Homo sapiens: one gene and its partners. The protein of the gene in region 2 interacts with the protein of the main gene of each other region in a biochemical or structural test. Each region holds a gene or a part of one and is shown on either strand. Other genes may lie near its edges.

What was found.
Region 1: the proteins of NOS1AP (region 2) and ARHGAP21 interact in a test that uses a peptide from one of them, tested with the Homo sapiens proteins (one large-scale study listed by IntAct).
Region 3: the proteins of NOS1AP (region 2) and HTRA3 interact in a test that uses a peptide from one of them, tested with the Homo sapiens proteins (one large-scale study listed by IntAct).
Region 4: the proteins of NOS1AP (region 2) and PDZK1 interact in a test that uses a peptide from one of them, tested with the Homo sapiens proteins (one large-scale study listed by IntAct).
Region 5: the proteins of NOS1AP (region 2) and FRMPD2 interact in a test that uses a peptide from one of them, tested with the Homo sapiens proteins (one large-scale study listed by IntAct).
Region 6: the proteins of NOS1AP (region 2) and MAST2 interact in a test that uses a peptide from one of them, tested with the Homo sapiens proteins (one large-scale study listed by IntAct).
Region 7: the proteins of NOS1AP (region 2) and FRMPD1 interact in a test that uses a peptide from one of them, tested with the Homo sapiens proteins (one large-scale study listed by IntAct).

Annotation. Positions count from the first base shown.
Region 1 is NC_000010.11:24,716,747-24,721,050, forward strand, and holds part of ARHGAP21 (rho GTPase-activating protein 21), read right to left. Parts: intron 1-4,304. UniProt on the Homo sapiens protein: Functions as a GTPase-activating protein (GAP) for RHOA and CDC42. Downstream partner of ARF1 which may control Golgi apparatus structure and function. Also required for CTNNA1 recruitment to adherens junctions.
Region 2 is NC_000001.11:162,362,571-162,366,874, reverse strand, and holds part of NOS1AP (carboxyl-terminal PDZ ligand of neuronal nitric oxide synthase protein), read right to left. Parts: intron 3,893-4,304; exon of another isoform or gene 1,526-3,892; coding exon of another isoform or gene 1,472-1,525; coding exon 1,306-1,471; intron 1-1,305. UniProt on the Homo sapiens protein: Adapter protein involved in neuronal nitric-oxide (NO) synthesis regulation via its association with nNOS/NOS1. The complex formed with NOS1 and synapsins is necessary for specific NO and synapsin functions at a presynaptic level.
Region 3 is NC_000004.12:8,290,249-8,294,552, reverse strand, and holds part of HTRA3 (serine protease HTRA3 isoform 1 precursor), read right to left. Parts: intron 3,184-4,304; coding exon 2,989-3,183; intron 2,233-2,988; coding exon 2,200-2,232; intron 467-2,199; coding exon 352-466; intron 1-351. UniProt on the Homo sapiens protein: Serine protease that cleaves beta-casein/CSN2 as well as several extracellular matrix (ECM) proteoglycans such as decorin/DCN, biglycan/BGN and fibronectin/FN1.
Region 4 is NC_000001.11:145,675,841-145,680,144, forward strand, and holds part of PDZK1 (Na(+)/H(+) exchange regulatory cofactor NHE-RF3), read right to left. Parts: intron 2,806-4,304; coding exon 2,609-2,805; intron 374-2,608; coding exon of another isoform or gene 318-373; intron 1-317. UniProt on the Homo sapiens protein: A scaffold protein that connects plasma membrane proteins and regulatory components, regulating their surface expression in epithelial cells apical domains.
Region 5 is NC_000010.11:48,155,537-48,159,975, forward strand, and holds the end of FRMPD2 (FERM and PDZ domain-containing protein 2), read right to left. Parts: intron 1,835-4,439; coding exon 1,786-1,834; 3' UTR 1,026-1,785; downstream 1-1,025.
Region 6 is NC_000001.11:46,019,762-46,024,065, forward strand, and holds part of MAST2 (microtubule-associated serine/threonine-protein kinase 2), read left to right. Parts: intron 1-2,188; coding exon 2,189-2,321; intron 2,322-3,148; coding exon 3,149-3,210; intron 3,211-3,471; coding exon 3,472-3,557; intron 3,558-4,010; coding exon 4,011-4,219; intron 4,220-4,304. UniProt on the Homo sapiens protein: Appears to link the dystrophin/utrophin network with microtubule filaments via the syntrophins. Phosphorylation of DMD or UTRN may modulate their affinities for associated proteins. Functions in a multi-protein complex in spermatid maturation.
Region 7 is NC_000009.12:37,656,953-37,661,256, forward strand, and holds part of FRMPD1 (FERM and PDZ domain-containing protein 1), read left to right. Parts: intron 1-4,304. UniProt on the Homo sapiens protein: Stabilizes membrane-bound GPSM1, and thereby promotes its interaction with GNAI1.

The DNA of each region.
Region 1 (4,304 bases), on a different chromosome or scaffold from region 2:
GTGGAGAAATCAGTCAACCAGATCCACATGTCATATATGAGAAAAAAGAGAGACATCAAAGATCACTCCAAGATGCCTGGCCTGGAAGGATGGGATTGCTATTGCTTGAGATGAGGAAGACTGGAAGGAGCATACTTGGGAAGGTGGGCCAGGGGAATGGAGGTAGAGTCAGGATTGTGGTTTTAGATATGCCTATTTACTATTCAAATGGAGATTCTAGGCAGTCAGGTCAGTTGGATATAGGAATCTGATTCTGCGAGACAGAGGAGCAGGTCAGCAATAGAGATATACACATGTACACATAAAGAAATATAAGTGAGTGTGTGTGTGTCAATTATCTGCATATACTTGATATTTAAAACCATGAAACAGTATTGGGAGAAGAAATGAGGATTAACTGAGCTTTGAGGTGTAGAAAGGTTTAGCAAATCAGGATGTCGAGGAAACCTCAAAGAGACAGAAGGAGGTGACAACGAGGAAGGAAGATAATCAAGAGAGTATAATGTCCGGGAATCTAAATGAACACTGAATAAAATGTAAAGCCTTTCCTGCATATTCATTTATTCATTCAAAAAATATCACCTGACACTTACTATGTGTCAGTCCCTGTGGAAACAAACATGGTCCCTGCTCTTATAGGGACTGCAATCCAAGGGGGATATAGATAAACTTGTAACTGGTATTCCTGAAAGTGCAGGGTGTTTTGAGAGAATACACTAGGGGCAACTGAAAGAGTCTTGCGGGTCAGGGAAGGCTTTCCTGAGGAAGCAGTATTGAAGAAAAGACCAGTATGATGAGTAAAAATCAGCCATGGAGCAGAGGGAGGAGGAACAGGGGACAGTAGAGGGAAGGGTAGAAGAAAGGACCTGACAGGAGTTCAATCTAGGAAGAACAAAAAGAAGTAACAAGTGAGACAGAAGCGCGGACCAAATTACCAAAGTCCTTTCAGACTTCACAGAGGTCTGAATTTTATTTCAAAGGAAATGGGAAGACAGAAAATTGTCTTATAGGAGGTAATGTAACGATCAGCTGGAGTACAGTGGCGCGATTTTGGCTACCTGCAACCTCTGCCTTCCGGGTTCAAGGATTCTCATACCTCAGCCTCCAAACAGTTGGGACTACAGGTGTGCGCCACCACGCCCAGCTAATTTTTGTATTTTTAGTAGGGACCGGGTTTCACCATGTTGCTCAGGCTGGTGTACAACTCCTGACCTCAGGTCATCTGCCCATCAGGAGGATCATTCTGATTACAGTAGGGACAGAGCTGCGGAAGGGGACAAGGCTAAGTTATTGGGAAACTCCGTAGGGAATCTGTTTCTGTGGTTCATCAGTGAGATGCAGCTGACCTGAACTCAGGTGGGGGTAGTGGGTATTGGGAATGTGGACTCCACAAGACTTTGCATATGAGGAATGACGAGACGGAAGAGTGAGAATGCTGACCTAGTTTTTGACTTGGACCAATAAATAGATGGTAGTGCTACTCAGCGAAAGAAGGTGCACAGGAAGAGGGAGAGTCAGCGGTAGCGGTGAAATCTGATGAGTTTGCAATGCCTGGGGAATATCCCCCAAAAGTGTTCGGTAAATAGGCAACTGGCTGAAAAGGTCTAGAGATCAACCATAAAGCCTGAGATAGAGGGGTAGATACGGAGTCACCAGCACACAGGAGAGTGCAAAATAAAACCCAGGGAGTGAGAAAGAGAATACAGGAATGGAAAGGCCTTGGCTCTGGATAAAACCAACAATGGGGCAAGAAGAGGAAGAAAAACCCTACAAAAGAGGCAGATAGAGAGGGAGATAGAAAGGAGGGGAGGAGAAGAGAGAGCGCCTGAGAAGGAACTAGGGAGTCTGGGATGAAAGCAAAAGCAAACTGTCCAGCATTCCAGAAGGAAGAGTCAACACATGGATTCATACAAACTCGTACCCAGAAAAATGTCTTATTGTATTGTTTACAGTATTTCAAAATCAACCAACAAGTGTATTTCATCAGCCATAATACATTTCAGTCATAGAATAATCTTAGCCTAGGTCAAGAAGCAAAACAAAAATAAGTTCATTTGCATTAGTAAAAAGTTTAATAATAAAGTGACAAAAATTCTATTACTGGACAAGAGTATGGACTACAGATAAAAAATGAAATAAATGTTAGAAATGGAAAAAAAATCATGTGGTTAAGAAAGCTGAGGGAAAGTTTTCTCTTCTTTGGCTTAAAAAAAAAGTTAAACCTTGAAAGATGAAGCTATATGGATATGAAAAGGGGTGATAATATCATAGAGGATTCAACAGAAGAATCTATATAAAGTGATTTTGTGAGCAAAGTTACTCAAGGATTGGTGTCAGAAGACTTCACGGACTACACACACACACACACACACACACACACACACCCCAAAAATCACTTAAGAGGTTCAGAGTGAGTGATTTCAAGTTTTAAAAATACACCTTGAGATGTATAAAAGTATATAAATTCGTGTGAGTACCATCTGGACCATCCTTACTGTATAATGCCAAGACATATTCTACTGAACTGTCCTAATTTCTTATTTGAAGAGGGCTGTTTATTTGTTTTGAGGCTTCCAATATATCCTGGGGGTGGGGAGGCCTAAATGTATATCATATATCAACACAATAAAATTGCAATGCTTAAGATGAACAAGAAATCTCTGATTGTTTTTCAACAAAGCACAAGGCCTTATTCAGAGAAGGTGGAGTTGGCTAATTAGATAAAGCATGAAACAGAGACTCCTGTTAATTCATTACATTGATTTCTTCTGTCCTATAAAGTTAGGTTTTCTTGGCTGATTAACAGCATTACTATTAAGACACACATGCTCATCTCTTTGTTAGTTAAAAACACAATAATAAATGTAGTATCCAAACACATTATTGATTTTTAAAATTTTTTAAAGAGTGATAGTACCACTGTGGAATGTAGTGCTTCTAATAAAATTGACGACAAAAATTAAATGCAATGTTCAAAAACCTAAATATCAGCCCAAAGTATTTCATTAGCAACTAACTCCCTATTACTAAAAAATATTCACAAGATTTAATGTGTATCAGAAGCATCAATCACAGATTAAAACACGTCACAACTAAATACAGGCAATAATTACACAAGTTCTCTTCACTCCCAACCCTGAGGTTTTAAAATGTTTTCTGACAACATATATCCCCTTTATTTCCACTTCCACATAGAATCTAGGCAAAATACCTATTCTTTAGAAAGTCAAATAATATTGTAGTTTAATACCAAACCTAAATACTGTATATATATTTCACATAAGCAAAACACAGGTGATATTGTGTTTTCTTCATTGCTAAACTTAAAAACAAGATAGCCATGCTGCCAGCAGTAAGGTCCAAATGAAAACAAATTTCACAGCCGTTAAAAAATACATAACTGTCATTGTTAATAAAAGCCAAGTGTGCAACAAACTGGAAATACTGCTTGCTAGCCAAGGACAAGATGTGTCTAAATTCTTGGTTTCAGGACATCTCTTAAATGACCAAAAAAAAAAAAAAAAATCAAATAACATTAGTTCTTGCAAACAGAATGCAAATACAATGCTAATTAAAGTATTCACAAGACAATGACAAATAAGGCTTCAGGACCACAATACATATTATTATGTAACTGCAATACACATTAAGCAATCACCAGGTTGCAGGTAGGCCTTCCAAAAGGAGTTATTATGGTTTACCGTGATCAGAGGATTGTGGTGTTCCACTTAATCATGCTTTTGCCTGCAAGCAGGTGTTTACAGATGTCAAAAAGTAAAACACTGATTCTAAATGTAAACCTACAGTTCTGCCTAATAAATTGTACAGTAATAGCACACTGTACCTCACAACGTTTTCTGCATAAACTTTCTAATTCGACATGAAGTAAGCTGCATGAAGCAAGTTTCTCCGCTTGCTTTATGAACCAAAATTTAACTTCTGATTCATTTTTATTAAAATGCCAAAACTCACACACTTAGAGCCAGCCCTTGTTTCAAGGACTATGAAGTTAAAATTTAACATCCGGTGCAAAAGAAAGTGAGACAGTGAATGAGGGTTCATTTGGGTATGTTATTGTCTAAAGTAATCCTCAACCCTTCAATGAAAACATAGGCATCTCAAAAGTAAAATTTAAAGGATAACAATATTCAGTCTATTTAAAGAACAAATTACAGGAACCGCCAATGATAAACATAGTATATTCATAATAGAAGTAAATTCCGAATACTTCAATCTCCAAACACGAGGAAAAAAAAAAAAGGTGAGAGGCAACAGAGTATATGCGTGTCATAAATCAATGTATT
Region 2 (4,304 bases):
AGACACACCTCGCTGGAGGGGAGGAGCTTTGGGACGTGGTAAAGGCGGGGACATAAGAACCATATGATGGTTCTGGTAGCCACTGAAGGCTCTGAATAGGGTTAGTGGTAGGAAAAAGGTACCAATTGAGAGAACCATGTTAGAAGCCTGTGGTAACCTTTAGTACAATCATGTAAATAAGCATTAATTAGGATAGAGCAGAGTTTCAATGAACAATCTGGAAAATCCAGAGAGGCTTCCAGAGTGGTGAAGGGCACTGGTTTCCAATCCACACCTCTGGGCTACTTTAAAAATACAGGCTCCCAGACCAGCCCTAGACAGAACGATGTAGGATCTCAGTAGGAAAGACGCATTTTTAAAAGAGCTCATGGGATGGTTTGGGGGAACCACTGGTATAGTTGGAACAAAATTTTGCAATCAGATCTAGGTTTGAATCTTGGCTCTGCTCCTTGCTAGGCCTATAACCTTGAGCTAGTTACTTAACCTCCCTGAGTCTGTTACCTCATCTGTAAAATGGCATCCCATTTTTCTGCAGCAGAACTACAGGGATTAAATGAGCTCACAGGCAAAAAATTCTATCACAGTTTCTGGCACAATATGTGATCAATGGCTATTTGCTGGTCCACAGCCCACACACACTCTGAGCATGCAAACAACCCACGGAAAGGCTCAAGAGGAAGGCGTGAAAATGTGTTGCGATCTACAGCTGCCCAGCCCAGCCCAGGGGTACTGAGTGTAGAGACAGCTTCTCAAGCAGGGGCCAGGCAACCTCTGCTATTGCCCAGCAGAGCAGTGCAGCCAGATTCCACTGCCTTATCCACTGAACAGATATACTGCTCCCAGCTTTTTCTGTGTGACAGAGTCTTGAAATACATAGTGCAGAGTAGTAAACTAAGAAACAATCTGCTGTCTCCCACAGAGCTCACAGAGACCATGACACCCAATAGGTGCCAAGTATACTGTTTGTTGATTGCAAAAGCTCTCTGAGAAAGAAATGGGCTGCCCTAGAACACAGAGTACCTGAGCCCCTATCAAATAGAGACTGGATGAGCACATAGCAGTGACTCCGGGGACATTCAAAGTCCAGCCCTGGGCCTGGATTAGAAGGCACCCGAGATCTCCTTTGGGCATGTGATTCTGTAATTCATTAAGTATACTAATGGGAAAACAAAGCTGCCTATGTTTTCTGCTGGAATATAGGGGTAGGTCAGGGGTCCAAGAAAGCACCACCAAAAACTTAAGGAAAGTGACACTCTTTCCAGAGCCTTCACAGAGGAAGCAGGGCTGGGCAGGGCACTGGCTTACTGGCGTTCTGTCCTGACAGCTTCAGTTCCAGCTCTTGCACCTGCTTGACCAGCAGGGAGATGTGCTGGAGCATGTCCTTGTTCTGCAGCAAAAGCTGATGCACGCGAGCCTGGGCCTCCAGCCGCGCCGCAGCCTCAGCAGCCAACTGGTCCTTCAGCAAGTGTACCTGCAGAGAAGAGGCAGCGGCAGAGAAGACAGGACAGAGAGAAGAGAGGGACATGAATGCACATGAGAGTCACTGGCAGATGGCCGGGACCAGAGATGCCCTCCACATTCAGTTCAAGAAGAAGCCCTTCACGGGCAGCATGGGCATCTGGGCTTATCATTCCAGAGGAGGAGCCAAAAGGAGTGGGTTCACTGGCACTGCGAAGCTGTGTGTCCTAAGGGAGGGCCATGATGCATCACTAAGGTACCCATACCAAGGGCAAGAGGCAGGAAAGAGCCATCGACCCTCTAGACCTGCCACACACACACACGTACACACACACGTGCACATATACACACACACACGCACGGTGCTCCATCCCTGCTTAGAGAACTCCTTCAGCACCTAGCATGGCATGCCATGTTGGAGGTGGAAGGGGGCACTCTCTTCTCATCCTGTCTTCTAAAAAACAAAACCAAAACTCATCTATTGACCCACTGGCTAAGAACAGTGTCACAACGAAGCCCATATAATCTTTCTCCCTCTCCCACTCACCCAAACATAGTGAGAAATAGGAAGCACTACACATGGCTTTTTAAATTAGTGAGGCAGCTGTCATCAAGCCACTCTGTAGGCGACAGCTTCTTTCCCTGTCTTCCTTTTTTATTTGCTATGGCAGACATCTAGGACCATGATTCATACCACATATTACCAGGACCACCTGGTAGGGGTCAAACATTTGCTGACTGATTCATGAGAGGGCCTCCTCCAACCAGCCCAGAAGGGCTGAGGTGAACAATTTGTGGCACCCTCATCAGTTTCCAACCTTCTTAAGGCAGAGCAGTTGGCAGCAATGCATTCAGCATGCTTGAGGCCCAGTGGTGTCAACAGCTCTGTTCTTGGTGAGCAATACTTATGTGGAGATAAAACTCAGTGGGAGGAGACAGGGGCAACCAGACCAGGACCCTGGTTTGAAGAAACTGAGTTAGAAGGCCAATACCAGTGTTCACACATATGTGATTCTTGTGCAAAGAAGTGAATAAAGAGTTCTCCAGGGAGCATTTCAGAAGGCCCCTGAAGAAAGGGAACTAATGAATTTTTATGGCCTGGACCAATGTAGCTTATGGGGAAAAGGGTGTTCTTGTACCAAAACCATGGTGTGGGTAAAGACAGAGCCAGGTGAGTGGGGGCAGGAGAGGTGGGACGAGGATGCAGGAAGATGGATGGGGAGTCAAAAGCATTAGCTGATTCCCTTGCTCAGAAAACAAGTGCTCAAATTTCTGAAGAGGAGTTTGCTCCAAAGAGATTCACATTTTTTTAGGGAGTAAAGGGCAGTGCTACCTCACAGTTGGCCACCCTTGGCCAAGTGACTTGCTGGCCCAGGGTGTGCCCCTCCCAGCAACCAGCACTCAGAGAATTACACTTGTGGATACCGTGGCTGCCTCCCTCTTGCCCAGATTGGAGGCCCTGACCTTGCCGTTGACCCTATTTCTGATTGAGTGGAGCCACAGGGGCATAATGCCTAAGGAATTTAAACTAAATCTGTCCTCCATAAAGCTGCTAAGGACAGAACTGATATTTTGGTCAAGAAGTCAGACTCATTTTTTTGTCTCATATTAATTGAGAGAAGATCTGGGGAGGGGTGAGAACAGGTGTGATACAGTGAAATACATGTTTGGTCTTCATCCCTGTTTCCTGACATATAGCTCCCCAAACCCTTGAGATCTCCAGAGTGGTAAGAGTGTTTTTTGTATGCTTATTAGATGATTAGTGGTTGGGGAACCCCTGGAAGCTTCGGGATGGGGGCTGCTCACAGGACAGACCAAGGTATGATTAGAGGATAGGATTTTTCAGTCCCACGCCCCAACCTCCAGGAGATGAGGGGCTAAAAGTTAAACTAATCACCAGTGGCCAATGATGTAATCAATCATGCCTACATAATAAAGCCTCCATTAAAAACTCAAAAGGACTGGGTGTGGGGAGCTGCCGGGCAGCTGAACATTTAGAGGTTCCTGGAGGGTGGTGCACGTTGGGAGGGCATGGGAGCTCTGCCACCCTTCCCACAGACCCTGCCCTATGCATCTCTTCCATCTGGTGTTCATTGGTATCCCTTATAATATCCTTTAAAATAAACCAGTAAATGTAGGTGTTTTCCTGAGTTCTGTCAGTTGCTCTAGCAAATCAGTTGAGTCCAAGGAGAGGGTAGTGGGAACACCAATTTATAGCCACTTGGTCAGAGGTGTAGGTGACAAACTATTACTTGTGATTGGTGTCTGAAATGGGGGAAAGTCTTGTGGGATTGAGCCCTCAAACTGTGGGATCTGATGCTGTTTCCAGGTAGATAGTATCAGAATCAAACTGAGTTAGAGGACACTGTGTGCCCTCTGCAGAACTGCTTGCTTGCTTGGTGTGTGGGAAAAAGCCCCATACATTTGGTCATAGAAGTATGTTGTGACAGTATAGCAGGAAGAAACTGAGTTTGTTTCTTCCTATATCCACTCAACAGGGAAAGAAATGTCAATAATATTGTAATCTGGATGTCAGATGGTGGGTGGCTATTAAGGTTTTCTCCTCTTTGGAAAGGGAGGCATGGAGAAATTTCAGCTGGGGGTCCCCCAAATCTATTTGGTTCTAAGGAACAGGACAACTGCTATGGGAAGCCCACAGATAAGCCTCAGAGAAGGGTAAGCTTAATCTTGCACTTATGAGTACCGTTACTTATCCCAACAAAGAGTGGCATCGAAAGGAACCTACTGAGCAAATAAAATTACTAAATTATTCATCTTCCATTTTCTTTGGAACCAAACCAACCAGAGAGAAATGTGGAACAAAGTCTTTCAGCAGATATAAACAA
Region 3 (4,304 bases), on a different chromosome or scaffold from region 2:
CACCTGACAACTAAAGAGCAGCCCAAATGAGAGGAGCCCAGGGAGTCCAGGAAGCTGATGGTGGGAGCTGAGCTCGGAGATTCCCCAGCCAAAAGGAGACAGCCTTGGAGGGGCAGGGGATGAAGCCGATCACGAATCGATGATAGGCAGGGGGAAGATCCTGAAAGAGGCTGAGGATAAGCTGTCCTGGGGGTCTCACAGCTTTGGGGTGGGCAGACAGGACCTGTCCAGTAGTGAGCAAAGTTCACCCAGCACCTCCGGTGGGCCTTGGTCCCAGGGCTGGGGTGTTAAGGGGCTGTAGCCCTGGGAGAGTGCCCCCTGCCTCTGGCCCCCTCCAGGTGAGCTCTTTACCTTTGATCTGCTTGTCTTGGAACTCTGTGAGGAACCGTGTGATGCGGTCTGAGGGGATGGCAAAGGAGATGCCAGCCGTGACCTTGAGCGTGTTGATGCCAATGACCTCGCCATCCTGGGCAGGGAGGTAAGAGCAGGCATCAGTTGGGGGAACCCAGGCAAACCCCTGCCCACAAAGCACTGTGTCCACAGCTCTGTTTCTAGAGGCTGACCCCAGCTGTCAATCCCCCTACAGCCCCCAACTCCCCTGAAAAGCTCACTCTCAGGATCACACCTGTGTCAGTGACCCTACCTCTCCAAATCCTGGAGATCCCCCTTCCCCATCCCTGGAGAGTATTTCCAGGGAAGCTTGCAGCTCGGGCCTGCCCCCAGGCTCTGGCCACTCTGCCTCTAAGAAGCACGGCCACTGGGCCAAGGACACCGCCAAGCCATGTTTGGAGGGACCGAGAGAGGGAGGAACATGGTAAGGCCTGTCGGGGACAGAGACCCTGTCTATCCCTACCTTCCAGAAGTGGGGGGCTGGCAGGTGGGACCAGGGGAGCTCCTTGACCCCCCCATCCCTCTCTTTGGAGACCCTCCAAACCTGCCCTGCCCCCCATGAGGCTGGTACCACTTGGGCAGGATCTGACCTGGCCCCTGGGGACCTCACACTCAGGCACACTCCTGGAAAGGAGCCCCACCCCACAGCCTGGCTTATACCCCTAGCCCTGCCCTCCCTGTCAGGGCCTGGCCAGCTCACCAGGGATCCCTCTGGGGCCTGGGGCAGAGCTTTGGGTCAAGGCACCCTTTGTCCTCCTGGTCCCTGGAAGCTCAGGAGGCAGGAAGAGCATCCGAGTGTGAGATCCAGTAGATTGAGTTCTGTGTCCACCCTCGGCCCTCTGTGCCCATCTCTACTGCCTGGACCATGCGGAGCAGCCTCCTGGGCCTGGCTTTCTGGCCTCCAGCCTAAACCACACACACGAGCTTCCTTGAAACCAGGGCACGGCCTCAGCCCTGCCAAAAGCCTGGGAGACATCTTGGGCACATAGGGTGAAGCCCCATCTGCACACGAGGCCTGAGGCAGCAGGACATGGGCCACCAGCCCCTTTCATTGTCCCCTTGTCTGACCTCCCCCTCCCTAAGCCTCTGAGAGCCTCCTGCAATGCTCATGTTGTGCCTTCTCCCTGGGATTTCTTCTTCCTGTACCCAGTCCTCCTCAATCTCGATGGCTGTTGTATAATGCTCTCACCTCCAGGAAGCCCTCCCTGATCTCACATCAGCTGCCAGGTCTTCCTGCCCAGCGTCCCTCCAGAGCTATCTCATGTGGCTCACATGGTGCTTGGGCTTGTTCACATCTGGACACCTCCCCAGCCATGGATAGGAGCTTCAGGGGTGGGACCGTCCGATCCTTCAGGGCCTAGGAGCTCTGAACTGAGCTTCCTGGTTTATTCTGGAAAAATCTCACCTGGGATGAGGCTGAGCTTGACTTTGAGGCTCAAGACACAACTGGGAAGGGGAGAATGAGGGTGCCCCTGTCATCCTGTGTGTACATCCAGGGCAGGGAGGGCTGAGGTGAGCAGCCCCACACCTGCGTCTCCCTTGCCCCAGCTCCCCTGACAGGCACATGGCCCTGGACTGAGCTGCTGCTCATGGGTGAGTCCTCATTCCTGGTGGCCACTAGCATCCCCGAGGCGCTTGGGGCAGCCTTGGTCTTTCCTCCTTCCAGGCCTCCGGCCCAGCTGCACTCCCGACTGTTGGTGTAAATGTTCTAGGACCATATTGTGGGCCCTGTCCCACCTCAAGGCTGAGCACCCCCATGTGAGAAGAACCCCAGAAACCTGAGAGATTTTGGCTCTAGGGGACACTTACCAGGTTCACCAGTGGTCCCCCGGAGTTCCCGTACTGCAAGGGGAGGAAACAGCATTAGCTGTGCCTGACCCCGCCTGAGGCTTCCTGGAGCCCCTTCTCCAGATCTGCCTCTAACCAGTGCAGAGACACATAAGCAGGTCTCATCCTCAGCAGCATCGAAAGGCCTCAGTGCTGCCCCCATTTCACAGATAAGAAGGCCATGTGGATGGCTGCCTGATGACCGAGGTCTGACTGTCACTGTTCTCTGCACAAACCATACGCTTCGGCATCTACACCCCGGAGGCCAGGCAGCACCGCCTGGTGCATGGAGAATGGGGGTATTACTTCCCATCCTGCTGGCCTGGGGGGGCCCTCTACAAAGACTCGGATTCCAGCCAAGTGCCTGAGCTGCGGCAAAGCTGGATGGACGTGATCTGGGGCATCTGGGTGAAGTGCTTTGTGAATGCTAAACGTGCCACCAACATAATCACAATAATAATGAAAAGCAATGTTGGCCAGGGTGTGTAAGCTGGGCAAAGGTGTTTGCGGGCTGTGGCCATGCCTCTGTTTCTCTGAAAGGCTGCCCGAGCGAGGACAGCAGCCTCTGACTCCCAGCGTGCCTGGCACCCTGGGGTGGAAGTCACAGGGTTAGAGCTCCACCGAATGTAAAGAGAGAACTTTCTAGCAAGTGGATGTGTCGAGTGCCAGAATGGCTCTGGGGAGGGGGGCAAGCCGAGTCAGAGACCACCTCGAGGTTGAGGTCTTGGGCACAGATGGCAGGTGCCCCGGCCTCCTGTCCCTGGGACTCACGTTGATGATGGCATCCGTCTGGATGTAGTCCATGTCGGAGTCCCGGAGGCCCAGCTCCCTGCCCTCCCGCTGGGCAGTGCTGACGATGCCCGTTGTCACTGTGTTCTGTAGGGCGAAGGGACTGCCGATGGCCACCACAAACTCCCCAGGCCGCAGGTCGGCCGAGTGACCCAGCAACAACACAGGGAGCTTTTTCTAGGAGAGAGAAGGAGAAGACACAGAGAGGGAGGCTTAGCCGTCTACCTTCAGCGGGGACCGGAGTCAGATCCTGGCAGGGGGGTCCCAGGGAAGGCATGCACATCTGTGCAAAGCCACCAGGACTGTGAAGGCTCAGGCAGGTCACCAGTGCAGACCAAGACCAGGGCAGTCCTGTGCTGAGACCCAGGGCTGGAGTACACGGAACAGAGGCTCAGCTGTGCCAGGGACCAGAGGTTCCCCCAGGGCAGGCATGGGTGCTCATCATGTGCAGCTGAGCACAGCCTCCAAGGTCGTTGAGCCCAATGATCTGATGGTCACATGGCCTCTAAAAATCTGGTAAAAGCTGCAGACACCTGGTAAAAACTACTACACCATATGCACCACACACAAACTGATGCATTTGATGGAGAGAGATCTGCAGACAACTGGAGCCCAGCTAAGGACTCTGACATCCTTGATCCAGTTCCATCTCATCTCCCAGTAGAGACACACGGGGGAACTCAGGCCTGGAGAAGTGAAGCCACTAGCCGAGCTCCACCCCACGCCGCGCACACTGAGACACCTGCACACCCCTCTTCTGCTTTTGCGCGGGCCCAGCGGAGCCTGTCTGTCTGATTATCTGACTCTGCAACTAGCCTGGCAGCAAGGAGAACAGCCAAGCTCTGTGTTCCAGAAGCTGCGTGGTGCACACTCTGAGAAGGTAATCCCGGGTGCTTGTTAGAAGGTGCCGAAGCGCACACACACACACGATAAATTGGGGAAGGCGGTTCTGTGCTCGTACCCACATCAACTTCCTGGTTCTGGTTTTGCACCCATTACCTAAGATGTCACCGTTGAGGGAAGCTGGCGGAAAGTCTCCTGGGACCTTGTGGCACTACCCTGTAGCTTCCCGTGGATCTGCGATCGGCCAGGTCTCAAGAGCATTGCCCCAACTTAGGAGATCAGTGGGGCAGGACCCCATGCCTCTGACCCTCTGGATGGCTCCCCTCCACCAGGCCACTGGTCCTTCTCATCGTTTCAGTCCTCTTCCCTTTTATTATACACCATCATGTCAAATAAGAAAGTTTCTCTTTGCAGCTTTCAATACGAGGAGAAAGCTGTCAATAATGGGGACGACG
Region 4 (4,304 bases), about 17 Mb from region 2:
ACCTCATTCTCTACTAAAAATATAAAAATTAGCCAGGTGTGGTAGCACACACCTGTAGTCCCAGCTACTTGAGAGACTGAGGCAGGAGACTCACTTGAACCTGGGAGGCAGAGGTTCCAGTGAGCTGAGAACATACCATTGCACTCCAGCTTGGACAACAGCGGGAGACTCTGTCTCAAAAAAAAAAAATGAGATTTTATTCATGCTTCATTCAGATAATTGGGTGTCTAGTATGTGCCAGGGACTGCTAGAGGGTTGTGTTTTACTCACTGATGTATCTCAAAGATCTACCCTCCACCCCAACCTACAGGGCTTACTTTGGAGAGCGGGGAAGGAGATGATGAGGGCAGGCTTCTTTTTCGATCAAAGTTCTCTATTAACCAAAACAGAAAAATTACAATTAAATCATTCTATGATAAGATCAGGAGGGGTCAGAATCCCCTTTACAACAAACAGCTGCAGCAGCCGCCTCTGATTTCTGCTTGACTTTCCACCAACTGCAAAATGACTCATCATTTCTGGCAGCTTCAGTTGGTTCTTAAGCCAAAAGCTAGCTCCCTATGGCTTCTCTGGTCCTGTTGTGCCCCATAGGACACCTTAAAAAAAATGTGTGGCCCGGGCGTGTTGGCTTATACCTGTAATCCCAGCACTTTGGGAGGCCGAGGCGGGCGGATCACAAGGTCAGGAGATCGAGACCATCCTGGCCAACATGGTAAAACTACTAAAATACAAAAAATTAGCTGGGCATGGTGGTGCGCACCTGTAATTCCAGCTACTCAGGAGGCTGAGGCAGGGGAATCGCTTGAACCCGGGAGGTGGAGATTGCAGTGAGCTGAGATGGCACCACTGCACTCCAGCCTGGTGACAGAGCAAGACAACGTCTCAAAAAAAAAAAAAAAAAGTGTGCTCCTTCTTACATGTAATAGCCTTTCAAATTCTTGAAGATGCTCTCTTCTCCAAAGCCTTACTCAAGCTAAATACTCACATGGTGGCTTCCAAAACCTCTTCCCTGGTTACCCTTGTCATTGCCTTCTTAAAGTGAAGTTCTTGAAACCGGACACAATATTGATTGAACAAATAGAACATTTAGATGTGTGAGGCATTATTCTACATGCTCTGAATATTCCAATTCAACCCTCATAGCCACCCTTCGCTGTAGCTACTACCCCTCTCTTACAACTAAGGAAACTGAAGCACAGAGAGAGGTGGTAACTATATTACCAGGTATTCCAAGTATGGTCTGACCAAGTAAGTACAGTAAGATGGTCATCTCTAGAAGCCAAGTGTCTGTCAGTTAATTTTTAAATTACCATATTTGGATGGGGCAACCACTTGGACTATGAAGTTTCTGGTCTTTTTCTGTAGTCCTCAAATCAGGTCTCACCATGTGGTATTCATACAATTTACTTTTAGGTTAGTATAGTACATCTGAAATTTATTCTTATTTCTTTAGTTTTCATTCTTTCTATCCTAACTAAATATTTTGAGTATTAATTACACCATCCAGCAAATGAATTATCTAGTGCCACTTTAAGTATGTTAATATATTTTCCATATCTCCTTTCAACTTTAAGCACATAAACGGTTAGGAACAAGTAGCATGCCATTAGAGACTTCTATTCAAGTTGATATTCAGGTTGATATCAAGTATTTTCTAGGTATGATTGTTCAAGTAGCTAAAAAAAAAAAGCCATTAATCTAATTAATTGTTTAATCCTGCTTACAAGATTATCTTGAAAAAATGTGCTGGGGAGTATGGTATAATGAATTACGGGTCCAAGAATTTGGGTTCAGATACCACCTTCAGTCTTTACTAAGCTGCGTGACTTTAGCAAAGTGCTTAGTCTCTCTAAGCTTCGGTTTCCTAATCTATGAGGAGGGCCTAAGATATCACCACCCATCATATTCCCCCCTCTGTACCGCTTATTTTAGATTCTACTATCATTGTATATCACAGAGGACATTTATCTTGTTCATCTTTACAATCAACACTTAGCAAGACAGATGGTACTTAGAAGGCCCCCCAGGTTATCTGTTAAACTAGACAACCTCAGTTCTTGTGTTAAAAGTAAAAAAAAAAAAAAAAAAAAAAAAAAAAACCTTAAAACATGCAGTAGTGGGTGTTATGATAAAGAGCTGTTAAGAGAAAATAAAGTTAGTTTGATTCAGGTTGGTCTTGGTCTATCTGTGTTTCTTTTTTATTTGCTAAGGGCTTACAAGTTGTTTAATAATCCTTTCTAGGCTTTTATGTGCAGTTGATAGCACTTAACTGACCTAAAGCTTAAAATCTAATTGTTTCCTATTTTGGGAACAATTTTATTTCCAGGCTTATATTCTCCATAGATTTTCTCAGATCACCAAGAGTAAGCCTGCAGTTATATTCACAAATTCTTTCAAAATCTTAAGACCAAGGACTTAAAACTCATTTATCAATCATTTGGCATTCTCTTATCACTACCAATTTGAGTTGAGCTTCAGTTTAGCCTTAATGATGATTGTTATGCCTCTTCCAGTTTGAGGAACAAAGTCCTAACTCAGTGCAAAAGTTGAGGTCATGAGTGAATGGGCCCAGCCTTAATGCATGAATATATGGCCTTGTATTACTTACCAGTCTGTACATGTTGTCCGTCTCTTTGTCTACCACCAACAGTGAAGTCTGATCTCCACCCTTTCTAATCATTTCTACCACACTGTCATGATCCAGGGTTTCCACAGACTCGCCGTTGACAGCAACTACCAGATCATTGTTCTTCAAGCCAGCCTCCTCTGCTGGACTTCCAGAATCTATGTCCTTGATGATTTGACCTACCCTCCCCCAACCCCAAAAAATAAAATTATCAGTAAGTCCCCTAAAAAAATAAAACAGATTTTCTGCTGGAGCCCAAAGCCCTGATGAAACAGATAAAAAAGGCATGCTGAGTACAACTACCACCCCTTCCACCAGCATCCCAGGAAGCTTATAAGCACACTATCTAGGCTCGTTTCCTGCTCAGAACTCACCCCAGAAACTAACCCAGCAATTAACAATGAAGGGGTCTTAACGAAAATAATCCTGTTACTAAAAGCGTCTGACATTTGATTTTGGCAAAATAGCATATTAAAAGGCTGCAAGTTCCCAGAAAGTCAGTGGGCATACTTGTAGCCACGCGTCTTATGTAAAAGCTGTCATAAAAGATGGGGAAGAATAAAGAACAAAACCCAAAACTTTGGACCTTAAGAAACCCAGGCTGGCATTTTAGTAGCAATTGGGTGTGTTCGGTTTTGAATATATTTGTATATACATGCCTCCATGTGCTTTGGCCTTCTGGTATCTTCACCAGATGCTGCCTTTTTTTTTTTTTTTAACAAGTTCCTGTTTCACTTTTCCAGCTAGCTGCTGGGTATCTCCAACAAAATATCTCATAGATCTCTCAACTGTAATGTATTCAAGCCAAAAATCAGCTCTGCCCATTCTCCATCCCAAAGCCCCTCCTCTTGGTTACCTGTTAGTGGAGCAACATCATCCCAGTCACCAACACTTGGCAACTGATTCTTCCCCAGCATCCAGTCCCCATATCTAGACGATTGCTAAGTCCTCTGATGCTACCATAATACCTTACACATCCCACTTCCTCTACCCTGAATGCAGTTTGTATTAGTTCCTGCCTAGAATTCTACCTAAACTATTACAGCACCTTACCTACTGCTTTCCCTTCCCCAGTCCTTCTGTCTGATACAGATCTGCCTTCAGATCCATCTTGGTGCACATTCCTAACCAAGTCACTTCCTGGTGCAACAGAATGAGCATGGGCTTTGGAACTAAACAACTATTTGACCTTACATAATTACTGTATCTTCTCCAAGCCCTCAATTTCAGCAGTTCTTCTTGCATAATTGTTAGGAGTAATTGAGATGTGCAAAGCCCCCAAGACATTATAGGCTGGTTTTTGTTCTTCTCCCTTATACTGCTCAAAAAACAACTCCCCATTGTCTGATAAGCCAAGTTCAAACTCATCAGTCTTGCATAGAAGTCCCCTTGTCACCTCTCTCCAACCTACCTTTCCAACGAATTCTTGTACTACACATCATGTGCCAATTAAACTGTGCCAGTGTCTCCTGACTGTGTTCACATGATTCCCACCTTCCTGGAATGATCTTCCTTATCCCAGCTCTGTCTACTTTCCCAAATCTATTCATGTTACAAAGCCTGAACTCAAGTGCCACCCCTACTATGAGGGCTTCTGGTACCTTTTTAGTGAGAAAAGCTTACTCTAACGTTGAATTATCACAGTGCTTGATCTGCCCCTGTATGAAGGTACTTAACC
Region 5 (4,439 bases), on a different chromosome or scaffold from region 2:
TGAGACTTTCCTGATGCTGGTCTATACTCAGCCACAGCAGTCCAACAAGATGGGCCCTATGACAGGACACCAAGACTCTTCTCTGCAGTACATCCAGCAGAGGGGCAGGTAGGAGCAGGCAAAACAGGAATCAGCACTAGACATTCAGACCCCCAAAAGAGAGAGACCTGAGGAGAGAGATGCACACTCCTGTACATAGGAGGCAGAACAGATGGGTGCTCGACAGGTGGGCCGTGGAGTGGGGAACCGATCAGGTTTGAATTCTAGTTCTGTCACTTACTTATTGGATAACCTTGGGAAAGCCCCAAATGTGTCATGTGTGAAATGGGGGTGATGACAGTCCCCATGTTGTAGGTCGTTGTCATGGTGCAAGGGCCATGGTAAGTGTTCTGTGAAAATGGCCATTACAATGACGCATGACCCCCAAAGAAGATGCAGGGGAAACTGGGCAATGCCCACAGACCATCCCCCACCCCCAGTTGAAGTGGCTTGATAGCACTGAGCCCTGCTCTGGTCAGAGCTCAGCCCCAGTCCACCCAGCCAGAGTGATACCCACCTGAGGGCACCGTATTCCAGGGCCACAGGCTCCTCCAGGTCTTCCCATTCACTCCCACTCTCTGGGGACTCTTCTGGAGGCAAAGACTCTGGGACAGTGCCCCAAGAGCAGAACTGTGGCAAGGGAATGGTCCCAGAATCTGCCTCCAAACATTCTTCACAGGGTAGCTGGCCTTGGCATGTAGAGTTGATGGTAAGATACTCTTCATCCTCCGAGGTGGGAGAAGGGGCTCCACATGGATGGTACATGTCACCTTCCCCATCCTCCCCATCCAATTCAGGACTAGAATACAGAAGCCCATGTTTCTTCCAGCCTTGATAAAAAAAATTCCTCACCCCACCTTCCCCTTGCCTTTTAGAATACTCTGCACGACACAGGCCCGTGAGACTCAGCCAGTGTTCAAACAGCTCATGCCAGAGGCTGCTCTGGGCACCAGGAAGCAAGAAACTTATAAGGCACCAACCCTGGCTTTGAGGAGCCCCCAATTTAATGAGAAGTTGGAGCAGTAAAGAAATGTTACAGTCCATGTAGGAAGTGCTATGATAGAAGCAGCTGGAGCACCTTACCGAGCTCAGGAGACCGGGGGGATGGGGGGGCTTGCCAGAGGGCACAGCATTGCAAGCAGGGCAATGACCCAGTTCTAAGACAGACTCGTCACATGGCAAGCAGAGTCGGTCAGACTTTGGACAAGTTTATTGACTTCTTTGGAACCTCAGTTTTCTCATTTGACAAAACTAGATGGTCAAGAAGCGTCTAGGATTATTGGGACACGTAAATTACATAATTCTGACACAGCCCCCCCAACTCTGGGTTCCTGGTATGGGGTAAGTTTTTAGTAAATGTGAGATGCTGTGATTAGTACTGTGAATATGATGGCTATTTCAACAGAAGAATTATAAAGAAAGGGCTTCAGGAAGGGATTGGGAGTGACTCAAGCAGGCAACCATCAAAGCACTTTGTGCAAAGATCAGGTCCTTTTCTGAGCACTGAAAATTTGCCTATTTAGAGATGCGGCAAGCTGAAGTGACATTTACTCCCCGCGGAAGGACACAGGAGGCAGACGAGTGGTGAAGCTCATTATCTGGTGATGCAGCCGCAGACGTAATGGTCAAAGAACAAGACTTCCAGGGGCTGCCCCAAGTTCGCCACACACGCCTCTTGATTAGAAAGAATAGTCCATGCAAAGGTAGGGCATTTTACACAGCACTGCAGACATGCAGAGAAGGTGCTCAGAAAATATCTGTCGAAAGTCTGGTTAGAGGAGATGAGAAGGAATATCTAAGAGAAAAGCACAAAGATTTAGCAAATACATGGATCCTCATTTCTCAGCCTCCTTACCCCCACCCAAATCAATGGGTTGGCTTTATTATGTGCTGCTGCTCTCCTTCTCCTTTCCTGCATTGCCTCTTTCTCTTAAAATTGGCTCTGGTGCACCCCAATAGCTACAAACCCTTAGATACCCAGAGAGCACGTCCTCCTCCCCAGTAGAGCCGGAAGCATCTGTCCCAAACTGAGCTTCACTGTGAAAGAGACATTATTTCCACTCATGAGAGCTACAAGGTATGTGAAATAGTGAATTTCATGTAAATATATGCACACTCAAGTGTATAAAAAAGAAATTATTCTACAAAGACTGAAGAGGAACACTCACTGTCAAAAGACATTTTTAATTCTTGAGCATTTGCAGGGAAAATTGACTTTAAGCTTGGCTAAATCATGTAGAAACTGTGTTTTCTTATAAACATGGGAAAGAAACATTCAAGAAGTTTTATCAAAGAATGGGAAATCTAGCCTATTGCCCAGGCCTAGGCTCACCACTGTCCCCACCACCTCAAGCAGCACCCCCTTCCCTCCGTTCTGAGCTCACTAAGCCTTGTTGAGGAGTGGAAGATGGCAGCTGTGTGTGTCCATTGGCCACTGCAGCTGCCTCAGTGTCCACACCTCACCTCCCACCCGTAGACTCCCTCCACCTCTTCTAATAAGCTCCTTGCCCTCTGGTTTTGATTCGGAGCTCCAGCTACTGGCTCTGCCTGGACAGAGACCTAGGGAAGCCATCAGCCTGAGAGGCAAGAGGCAAGGCTTCATCTGAGGTTCAACCAAAGAAAAAGCGATTTGCTCCCCACTTGTCCAGGGGGACTTGGTGGTCCCAAGGGTGAAATCTTGGCCATCATCCCACCACAAGTTGGGAGAACGACTGCCTTTCCTTCTATCCTTTTGCACGTGCCATCAGGCTGCCCTTGGAGATTTGACCTGGGGCTCAACTGTGGACATAGGGAAAGGGTGAATAGGGAATAAAGAGGCACCAGAAGCCTGTATGCCTATTTCACGGAAAGGGCAAGACTTGGAAATTTGGAGAATTTCATTAAGATAGAGACATTCTTTCACAGCAAGCCTCATGTTTTGCATGTGGACATGATGGGTAAAGAGGTGGAGTTCTTCACCCAGGGTTCAAGGCCGGCCAGCTCATGGCTAATGTAGCAGGACTTTCAGCAAGACCCTGATGCTGTCGGAGTACACGGGGCTCTCTGCTCACCCCCTGATTCTGTGTAATGATCTCAGCTTCTTCCTGCCCTCACTCTCTGCCCACCAAGCTGTCCAACAGAAGGAGGCTTTTATAGACAGATGATAACTAGAGGAGAATCTGGAGATTTCACGTGGGCTTCCTGGCCAGCCATGTCTCCCATACAAACCAGCAGGACCCCAGAACCAGGGTCCCCACCAAGTCCTGAAACTCTTCAGTGGGTATTTTTAAGAGGAATCCCAGTTCAGCTCTGAAGTCAGTGAAACCATTCTGAAGGCTCTGCTTGCTACAGAATGTTTACTGAGAAAAGACACTGTGCCCAACTTTTCTGGACAGCTGTCCTTTAAAGACTTGGGCCACCAAATTCATCTCTGCCTTTCAGGAGGAAATTCATAGAAGCAGATTGGGCATTTCAGGCTTGAAATATGAAGGTATTATAATTGTCCTATTTACTTACGGTTAAACTCACAACAAAGTTTGGGGTTTGTGTCCCTTCATGTCTCCAGTTCTCCAACATCAGGCCCCATATTGAGGTCTCCATTAGCCCTGATGACACAGCTGGGAGCCCCAGGTCTCTGCTCCTGACAACTGCATTTAGTTTTGGCAGGTTGGATTTACAGTATCTCTAAGACATCAAAGTAAACAAGTTCAACGGACTGCCAGATTTGAAGCTCAGATGATAAATCTGAGCTGAAGTACAATACTTAGGATTTGTCACAGTAGTGTGGACAGATACCCCTGGGTATCTGGGGATACCCAAGGATAGCCCTGGGAGCCTGTAAGGTGTAAAGAGAATCCTGCTAGAGGCAGCACCCAGGATCCAGCCCAGGCTCTGCTGCCTCCCTCACTCCCCTCAGCCACACTCCAACCCAAGAGCAGGCATGACATCTCCCTCACCTGGCAACTGCATCCCTCCCTAACTACTCTGACATCACACCTGGCCTGGCCCCTGCAGTTGAGTGAGATCTCTGGCCTCCTAATTATCTTTTGCTATTCCAGGCAGTGCCCTTCCCCAGAAGGTATATCATAACTTTAGGTTCATTTCCAGGAGTCCTGCTTTATTTTGCTTTCTTAAATAAATGACCATCAAGATTTATACCATCACTTTCACAAAGTGATGCTTGTTGAACTTACGTGCATTTTACTTACATGAGTTTAATGATATGTGCTAGGCAAAAAGAGAAAGAGAAAGATAACCTTAAACATTCTGCAAAGACCAACTTTCCAACCGATAAGTGTAAGCCTTGAAGTGCACATGAGTGGGAGAACTAAATCTTTCATCCTCTCAATCTGTCTCTGTTTCTATTGGGCCAGCATTTAAAGACAAACATTTTGCATACAGCATGGCCCATAAATGCAAGC
Region 6 (4,304 bases), about 120 Mb from region 2:
ATGACAGCAAAACTGTGGTGGTAACCACTGCCATTTCTGTTGCTTAGGTCCTTATTTAAATATGATTTGCCACCATTGGGGGACTAAACAGGTTTTTGTGAGGACAAATGTATGGTCCTGAGGGGATGCGGCAGGGAGAATTATTAGTCTAGGCCACCCCCACATGAGCAGGGCTCACATCAGTGGGGGTCTTGGGGGTGAGAAGCGTCAGGAGCATAGCCCAGTTTAGTTTGTACAAGTTGAGTCCTTCATTTTATCTTCAGCAATACTTGACTGAGTACCTACTTCCTGCTAGACACTGGAGATACAGACATGAATAAAGCACAGTCTCTGATCTTGGGATGTTTCCTCTACAGTGGAGTTGGGAAGCATGAGGCATGAGGACATGTAAATAGTAATTACAATACTGCAAGAAGTGTTGCAGTTGAGGTCAGTACACAGCGTAACGGGAACCTGGAAAAGGAAGTGCTTTAGTCTTCCCTGGAAGGAACATTCAGTGAATGCTCCCTGGGGGACGTGAGGCTTATTCAGCAAACTGAAGGATGAGTCTAAGTTTCCCAGATCGGGAGCATGGGAAGGAGCATTCAGTGGGGCACAGGGTGGGTTTGAAGAAGTGCTGAGGGGTAAGCCTGGAAGGTAGGCTGTGACAGGGTCATGGAGGGTGTCGGGTTCTCGGCTCTGGAGTTTTTCATTACCCTTACGGCCACTTGGAGACACCAGAAAGTTTAGGTAAGAATGTGACATGGCCGCATTTACTTTTTTCTTAAAAAATATTATTAAGGTATAATTTTCATACAATAAAATATATCCCTTTGATGGTACAGTTCATTGAGATTTAACAAATACACACTTGTAGAATCGTGGCCACAGCTGACATAGAGAATATTTCTGTCATATAAGTTCCCTTGTGCCCCTTTGAAGTCAGTCCTCTCTTCCTCCTGCTCCCAGACAATAACTTAACTGCTTTGTTTCACTAGGGATGGGTTTGCCTTTTGTACAGTTTCCTAGAAATGAAACCATGTTTCTGTGTGGTTTCTGTAGTATGTTCTGAATTCTTTCACTCAGCATGTTTGTAGAAATTCATACATGTTGTTGCATGTATCAGTAATTGGTTCCTATTTATTTCTGTGTAAATATTACATCAGATTTAGTCCTAAGAAAGATTACTTTGGCTGCAACATGGATAGTGAATTGGAAGAGAGGGCAGGATGAGCCAGGGACATCAGGGGAGAGGTACTCAAAGCAAATTCATGTGAGATGGGGTGGCCAGAACTCAGACAGTGAATGGTAGGATAATAGAGAGAAAGAGGTGGATTAGAGGGGTATTTATGAGAGAGACATTCTGACCAAATAGGAGCTAAGGAAGGATAAGAAGTTAAAAGGACTTCCAGGTCTGGCGTAGGTTATATCCAGATAGGTACAGTTCTCCAAAACAGTGAGGCCACAGGGAATGAGAACAGAGTTCAGGGCAGAGGCTATGCTGTGATAGAGCAGAGAGCCTCTCCCTCAGGAACATGAAGTCCTTGGCTAAGCAGGGGCTTGGAGTCAGACCTGGGCTGAATGCTGGTTTTCTGTTCCTTCCTACTACTGTGATTATGGACAAATCAGTGCATCCCTGAAAGCCTTGATTTCCTCAGTGAGGTCAAAGAGTTGCTAGAGGGTTTAACCCAGTGTGTGGCACTTAGTAGGCACTCAGTTATTATGTGCAGACAAGGATTGTGCTTTTCAATGGATTTCCAGCCTCTAGCACATAGGAGGTGCCCAGTAAATATTTGAAGGTATACATGCACCAGTAGGGCTTTGCCAAAGCTCTTGTGAGCCATAATTGAGTGTGTGCCAGGACAGCTGTGGACTGGGCATCTGAATACACCAGACAGTGCCACCTGGCTGATGGAAAGCATGGGACCAGATCAATAGGCTGAGCTCTCTTTAGAGTAAAACCTCTAGTTCTTACTGCCAGGAAGACAGCATATGCTTAGCATGTCCAATCTGGAGGTGACCTGTAAGACATCTTTGTCCCCATTCCTGTGATCCCTGAATCATGTTGTTTCTGAATATTCAGGGGTGGGAGTGTCCTATCACAGAGAAAGTCTTGTTCATCTCAGTCTACTATATGCTGTAAAACCAAAGATGCCAGCAGCTTTCGCTTATATCTGTCACCACTGACTATCTCTCTCCCTTGGTACAGGAGTTTGACCCTGAAGAGTTCTACCACCTTTTAGAAGCAGCTGAGGGCCACGCCAAAGAGGGACAAGGGATTAAATGTGACATTCCCCGCTACATCGTTAGCCAGCTGGGCCTCACCCGGGATCCCCTAGAAGGTGAGCATGCTGCCTAGTGGCTGCAAAGAGGCCCCACTGCTGCTGGCAAGCTCTAACAGCAGGGAAGCTGCTTGGAAAAGAGACTTAGCTTGGACATGGACACAACATGGCCCCGGGGGCCTCAGGATTTTAGGAGATACCCTGTGATCTCTGTGACAAAACAGTCTTTACTTTGGAACTGCTGTTCACATCTGCCTGATAGATCCCAACCTGGATTGCATTGGCCCGGCTGAGTTGCATTTAGAACCTCAGTTCCAAAGAGGTCAACAACAAAGGGCCACAATCACATTTGCAAAAATGGTCACCTCCTCTGCAACTTGCCTCTACTCTTGGCCACCTTACAGGTCTTCCTGTGTCTTTGGGGTAGTCCAACACAGGGCTTCAGAGGATACTGCCATTCTTCTGGGCTTCCTGCTGAACCCCTGCAGCAACCATGGGCTTCCAAGTCCCTGGTCTGTAGGTATCCTGCTCCTGCCTTCTGTGCTTCCCAGCCCCATCCAGTGAAGCAGTCTTGGCCAGCAGGATGGGAACTAGTAACCCAGTTTCAGGCCCTGTTTTCCAGGAAATGTCCCCAGTTTATAGAATTTGCCAGGCCCTGTGAATGGCAATGGACTTCTGGAAATGGGAGTAGCAGTAGGATTTGGCTTGTTTCCTGATCCAAAAGCTGGGACTACATTGGGTATAGTGCCATGGGACTGAATTCACATCCTAGGCTGATGCAAAAAGCATTAATGACTACCCTACATGCACCTGTTGTGTGATCTGAGGATACTGCTGAGATACCTGACATTGCCACGCACATTCTTCTCTTGTATCTTTGTTTCCAGAAATGGCCCAGTTGAGCAGCTGTGACAGTCCTGACACTCCAGAGACAGATGATTCTATTGAGGTAAAAACCCTGAGCTCCTACCCCATTCCTGGAGCCTGGGCCCTATGAAGCAAAGAGCTATGAATTCTCTTTAAGAGAATATCTGAGGAAGGGATGGGGGAGTTGGTGACAGCAAACACTGAGAAGTCATTCTACTCCCAGAAGAATGAGCAGGAGACTGCACTAGAGCTGACAGCTGAGAAGATGCTAGAGCCACAGCTTCTGCAAGGATATGGGCTCTGAGAAGCATGCCTGTCTCCTGCCTTTTCCCTTGTCTTCCAGGGCCATGGGGCATCTCTGCCATCTAAAAAGACACCCTCTGAAGAGGACTTCGAGACCATTAAGCTCATCAGCAATGGCGCCTATGGGTAAAGGCAGGGGTCAGGGTGTGGCCAGGACTGAAGCCGGGTCAGCCTTTGATCTCTTCCATGTGAGAGTGTATGCTGCCCAGTCCTCTGGGCAGATGCCTCGGGGTGGACCTTCTCACTCCCAGAAGCCTCCTGGGTGGGCAGGAGTTCAGATTCCTCTGACATCCGATCATTGTTCCTTTCCCAGACAAGATTCCCACGCCTCTTACTACCACGCATCCTCCATTCCCTGAGCTCTGGGGAAGCATTGAGCCGTGTCATCAGGACATGGTCTATCAAGAAGTTTAAGAGTTCTATGGACCAGGGGGTCCCAGACCCTTCTCACTGATATGCATGCCCTTGCCCCCTTGTTCTGTGCATTAATTAAGGTGTGAGAGAAGGCAGTTTGGGTGGCAGAGAGCACAGCTCAGGTGCTGAGGGTCCATGGGGGATGGGCCGGACTTTGTTTCCCAGGGCTGTATTTCTGGTGCGGCACAAGTCCACCCGGCAGCGCTTTGCCATGAAGAAGATCAACAAGCAGAACCTGATCCTACGGAACCAGATCCAGCAGGCCTTCGTGGAGCGTGACATACTGACTTTCGCTGAGAACCCCTTTGTGGTCAGCATGTTCTGCTCCTTTGATACCAAGCGCCACTTGTGCATGGTGATGGAGTACGTTGAAGGTACTGAGGCAAAGGTGGCCTGGCATGGAGGCCAAGGCACAGTCTGAGACTTAGCCTTAAACAGGGACCAGCAGCTTTGTACAGA
Region 7 (4,304 bases), on a different chromosome or scaffold from region 2:
TACAAGTTGGAAAAGATAAGATGGTAAATTTAAAAGTTCTTTTGACCTCTTTCAAGGAATGATCTGAGAACCTCAGCTGCTTCAGTAAAAGGGTGATATGGCAAAATTTCAAAATCCTGAATGGAAAGAGCTTCAGAGGAATTCATCTGGATGCAACAGTGCATCATTCTCTGAGATTTTTGACTTAAGAGAAGACAGATGTGCAGGCAGCTGAGAAATGCTGTGCTTCCTGTTCTTTGAGTATCTAGAATATAGGGTGTAGGCTACAGCTTGTATTAAAACCAACGATAACAATCCCACCTCCCCTGCCAGTTGAAACCCCTGTCTGATGCTGACTTGTAACTATTCACATGTGAAGCTTCTGAGTTACTGCTTTGTTGTTTTCTTTGCTCCAATGTAGAATTCAGAAGGATGCAAAAGGAAAAACAATTATTAAAGACGAGGATGGCATTTATTCGTTCTTATAAAAATAATTTATTTAGTAGCTGCAGTCTCTGTTCTCTCTGGCTTTCCCTGGAAAAAGACACCACTCCAGACTGTCCAGGGCTCCCCTGGTACCTGTGAATGTGCTGTTAGTTCCTGGTCTGGTTAGAAGATGATGTCTCTGTGGAGATACATACTTGGCCTCTTTCTTTCTCCCTGGGGTGAGGGACATTTTATGTATAGGAGATGGAAGAATAGACGGTCTCTTTCTCAAGCTCATTCCTGGTTATTTTCAGTACTTAGCTCTTTGCAAAAACTGCGTAATAAGTGTCTTAGTGAGAGTGTGCCTTGTTTATGTGCTGAAAACCTAGATTCACACATATGTTTCCAGATATTTTAGCTACCAGCATAGACCCTCAAACAAGACTGCCAGCTCCGGAGATGATCAAGTACAGCCTTTGTGTGGTGCAGGAATTCCCCTAGCATACCCAGCCTCCCTCTGCTTGGACCTACCAACCCCCACCACCTTCCTATTCCATCCTCAGTTGGCTCTGGTTATTACAAAGTTCTTCATTATTCCAAGCCAAAAATCTTCCTCTCGGCAATGGTTGCCCCATTGGCCCGATCCTGTCCTTTGAAGCCCCACACACAAAAAATCCATTTCTTCTTCCCTATGACAGCTAGTTAGGCCACTTGGACCTTCAAAGACAGGGATCAGGCCCCCACATCTTCACTTCTTTAGGCAGAATGCCCACTTTATCTGGCCCCCTGAAAAGCTAAGAATGGGACACCGCTGTGCAGGTGGGGGTCTGATCAGCCCAGACAGGAGCAAGCCCACTGCAGCCTCACTTCGGAATCTATATTTGCGTTAGCACAGCCTGAGGCCAGTTAGGTCCCGGTGGGTCCCCCTTCTGAGCTGTGCACTGGGCCACTACGGAACTGCATGCACTTTGGCGTCAGAGAGACCCGAGTGTCCTGGCCCAGTGGTTGACGTGGGGTCGGGTGAGTGAGCCCCCTCTCTGGGACTCAGATCCCTCATCTGTCTGACTACTTCTTAGGTGCTGTATTTTTTCCTGTAAATGCTGTAACAAATCACCTCAATCTTGGCTTAAAACAGCAGAACTGTGTCCTTGAACAGTTCTGGAGGCCAGAAGTACAAAATCGAGATGTTGGTAGTGCTGCTGTCCCACTGGAGTCTCTAAGGGGAATCCTTCCTTTGTCACTTCCAGCTTCTGGTGCCCACTGGCATTTCTTGACTTGTGGCTGCATCACTCCAGTCTCTGCCTCCCTGGTCACGTTGCCTCCTCCTGTCTGTTTCAAATCTTTGTTTCACTCTTATAAGGACACTTGTCCTGAGATTTAGGGTCCATCTGGATAATCCAAGGATAAGCACGTCATCTAAAGATCATTAATTTAATTATAGGTGTAAAAATCCTTTTTCCAAATAAGATCACATTTACAGGTTCCTGGGATTGGGACTTGGAATTATTTATTTATTTATTTATTTTTGAGACTGGGTTTGGCTCTGTCACCCAGGCTGGAGTGCAGTGGCATGATCAAGCTCACTGCAGTGCTGATCTCCTGGGCTCAAGTGATCCTCCCACCTCAGCCTTCTAAATTGCTGGGACTATAGGCGCACACCAACTGGCTAATTTTTAAATTTTATTTTTAGTAGAGATGAGGCCTTGCTATGTTGCTCAGACTGATCTCAAACTCCTGAGCTTAAGCAGTCCTCCTGTCCCAGCCTCCCAAAGTGCTGGGATGACGGGTGTGAGCTACTACATCCAGCCAAGACTTGGATATCTTTTTAGGGTGGCCGCCATTCAGCCATTGGCTCTCTACTTTCTCTACTTTTGCAACTCCCTTTTGTTTCTATTGTATTTGAACCCAGCTCTCCAGGGTCACTGGCCTCAGATCCTCAGGCCACATGTCTTCTGTCTCCTCCTTCCTTCAGCATCCTGGCTGCTGCTCTGAAGGGTGCCGGGGCTGTTCCTATCACTCCTGTTGTACAGATGTGGGTGGGGCCCTCAGGGATTAGGCTGCCTAGGAGAAAGCTCAGGTCTTTCTGGTGCATACCCTCATTTCCACCAGCATGCTATGGCGAGTCCAGTGGAGGTTTTGTCAGTGGGAAGGAGAAGCTGTGGCTATTAAAATATTCATTGCCGGTTCTCAGACGTAGGGAAGATCCCACAGTGAATGTGCTCTGGACAAAGAAGGGACACATAGTGGAAGACTTATGTCTTCACATTTTCCCACTAATTTAGACTGAGATTGGCTCACTGAATTTGAGGGAAATTATATTCTCAGTGCCCAAATACTCTGTAAAAAATCAGGAAATGCTCCTTGACAACCCTGTAAGGGCATAGTAGTATCATCTTCTTGCCCTACAACTAGCCTGTTTCAGAAGTTCCATGGTCCTTTAAGTGTGATCTCCAGTCTGCTGCTGGCTTCTGGGCTCTCCAAATGCAACTCCCACTAAAATGTGCTTTTCTCCACAAAGAGAGTGCGCTGCTTTGTTTGCAGTTGACTTTTCAAGCACTAAAAAAAAAAAAAAAAAAACAAAACTGAGGGGCAAGCAGAAGAGCTGCGTCTGGTGAAGCTAGTAGTGGAGCTGAGAGAAAGCAGGGGGAGGGTAGTGGCCTGGGAAGTTCTGGACACTGAGCAGCTCCAGACTCTCCACTCATTGCTGCCCCCAGGATTCCTGTCCGACGGCATCCTCCTAGATGGCTGCTGCACTCATTTCAATGTGCTTTGCTAAGAAAGGCCTGTGTGGGGATAGGGGCTGGGGAGGAGAGGCGGGGAGGGAGGAGAGAGATGAATCAGACAGTCCCTGCCCCACCTGCGGCTGGAAGTAAGTCAGTGCTGGGCAGGGTGCTGTGCTTTGCAGAGACCCTTGGGAGCCTAGCAAGGGCTGGCCATGCCTTGCAGGGAGATCTAGGAGGGCTTCTGGGAGGGACTGGCATTTGAACCGAGCCCTAGTGGGTGACTAGGAGATAAAGAAGAGAAAGATGGATAGAACAGTGTATCCAAAGTTGACCTCAGGTGGCCCCCTTCCTGGTCATCATCCGATGGAGCTGCACTGGAAGAAGCTCAGGTCTTACAGGGACCTTAAGGACCATCTAGTAAGGAAGATATTCAGACTGCACTGCTTAGAGACCTCCGCTTCTCATTTCTCTTAAAGAACAGTGATTTTAAAGTAGGTTTAAACAATGGGTTTAAAGAACAGTGATTTTCCATTTTGACAAGGCTTGTTTGGTATAGCCACTTCAAAATATCCCCACATCAAAATATGATGCTTTATCTGGGATATCTTTTCCAGACTTTGGGAGCCTTCCCTCCTGCACTTTCATTTCTGCAAGGCAATACTCCCCAGACAGTGTGGTCATGGGGTGTTGCTGTGTAACCTTCCCCACTTGACTGTGAGCTTCCTGGGCAGGGACCGAGCCTTGCTGCTCATTCAGTACGGAGCCCAGAAGGAGGCCTGGGGGGTACAGTGTTGACCGATGAAATGAATGAATGCATGGCTATGACTACTTCCTTAGCTGCATCTGGCTCCCAGCTGCCTTCATTGGTCTCTACAGTCATCAGTAGTATCCTGGCTAAGTCAAGAGCATATGTGGGCCTCTGTGTTTCTCCATCTTATATTCTCTCCTGGAGTTGGTTTGCTATATCAGCCAAGTTAGTAGAGACTTGGAGGGGTGGTGCCCCCTCTCTGCACTTTCAGAGGATAGGGAGGCGGTGGACCTAATGTCCAGCCCCTGGAACTGCTGCCTGTTGTTCTGTGACATGGCCAGACTGACCTGGGAACTTGCTAATTCGGTCCAGCTGGCTCTTCTTGGTGCCTTGTAGTCTTAGTACTAGAGTCACAGAGGCAGGAGGGT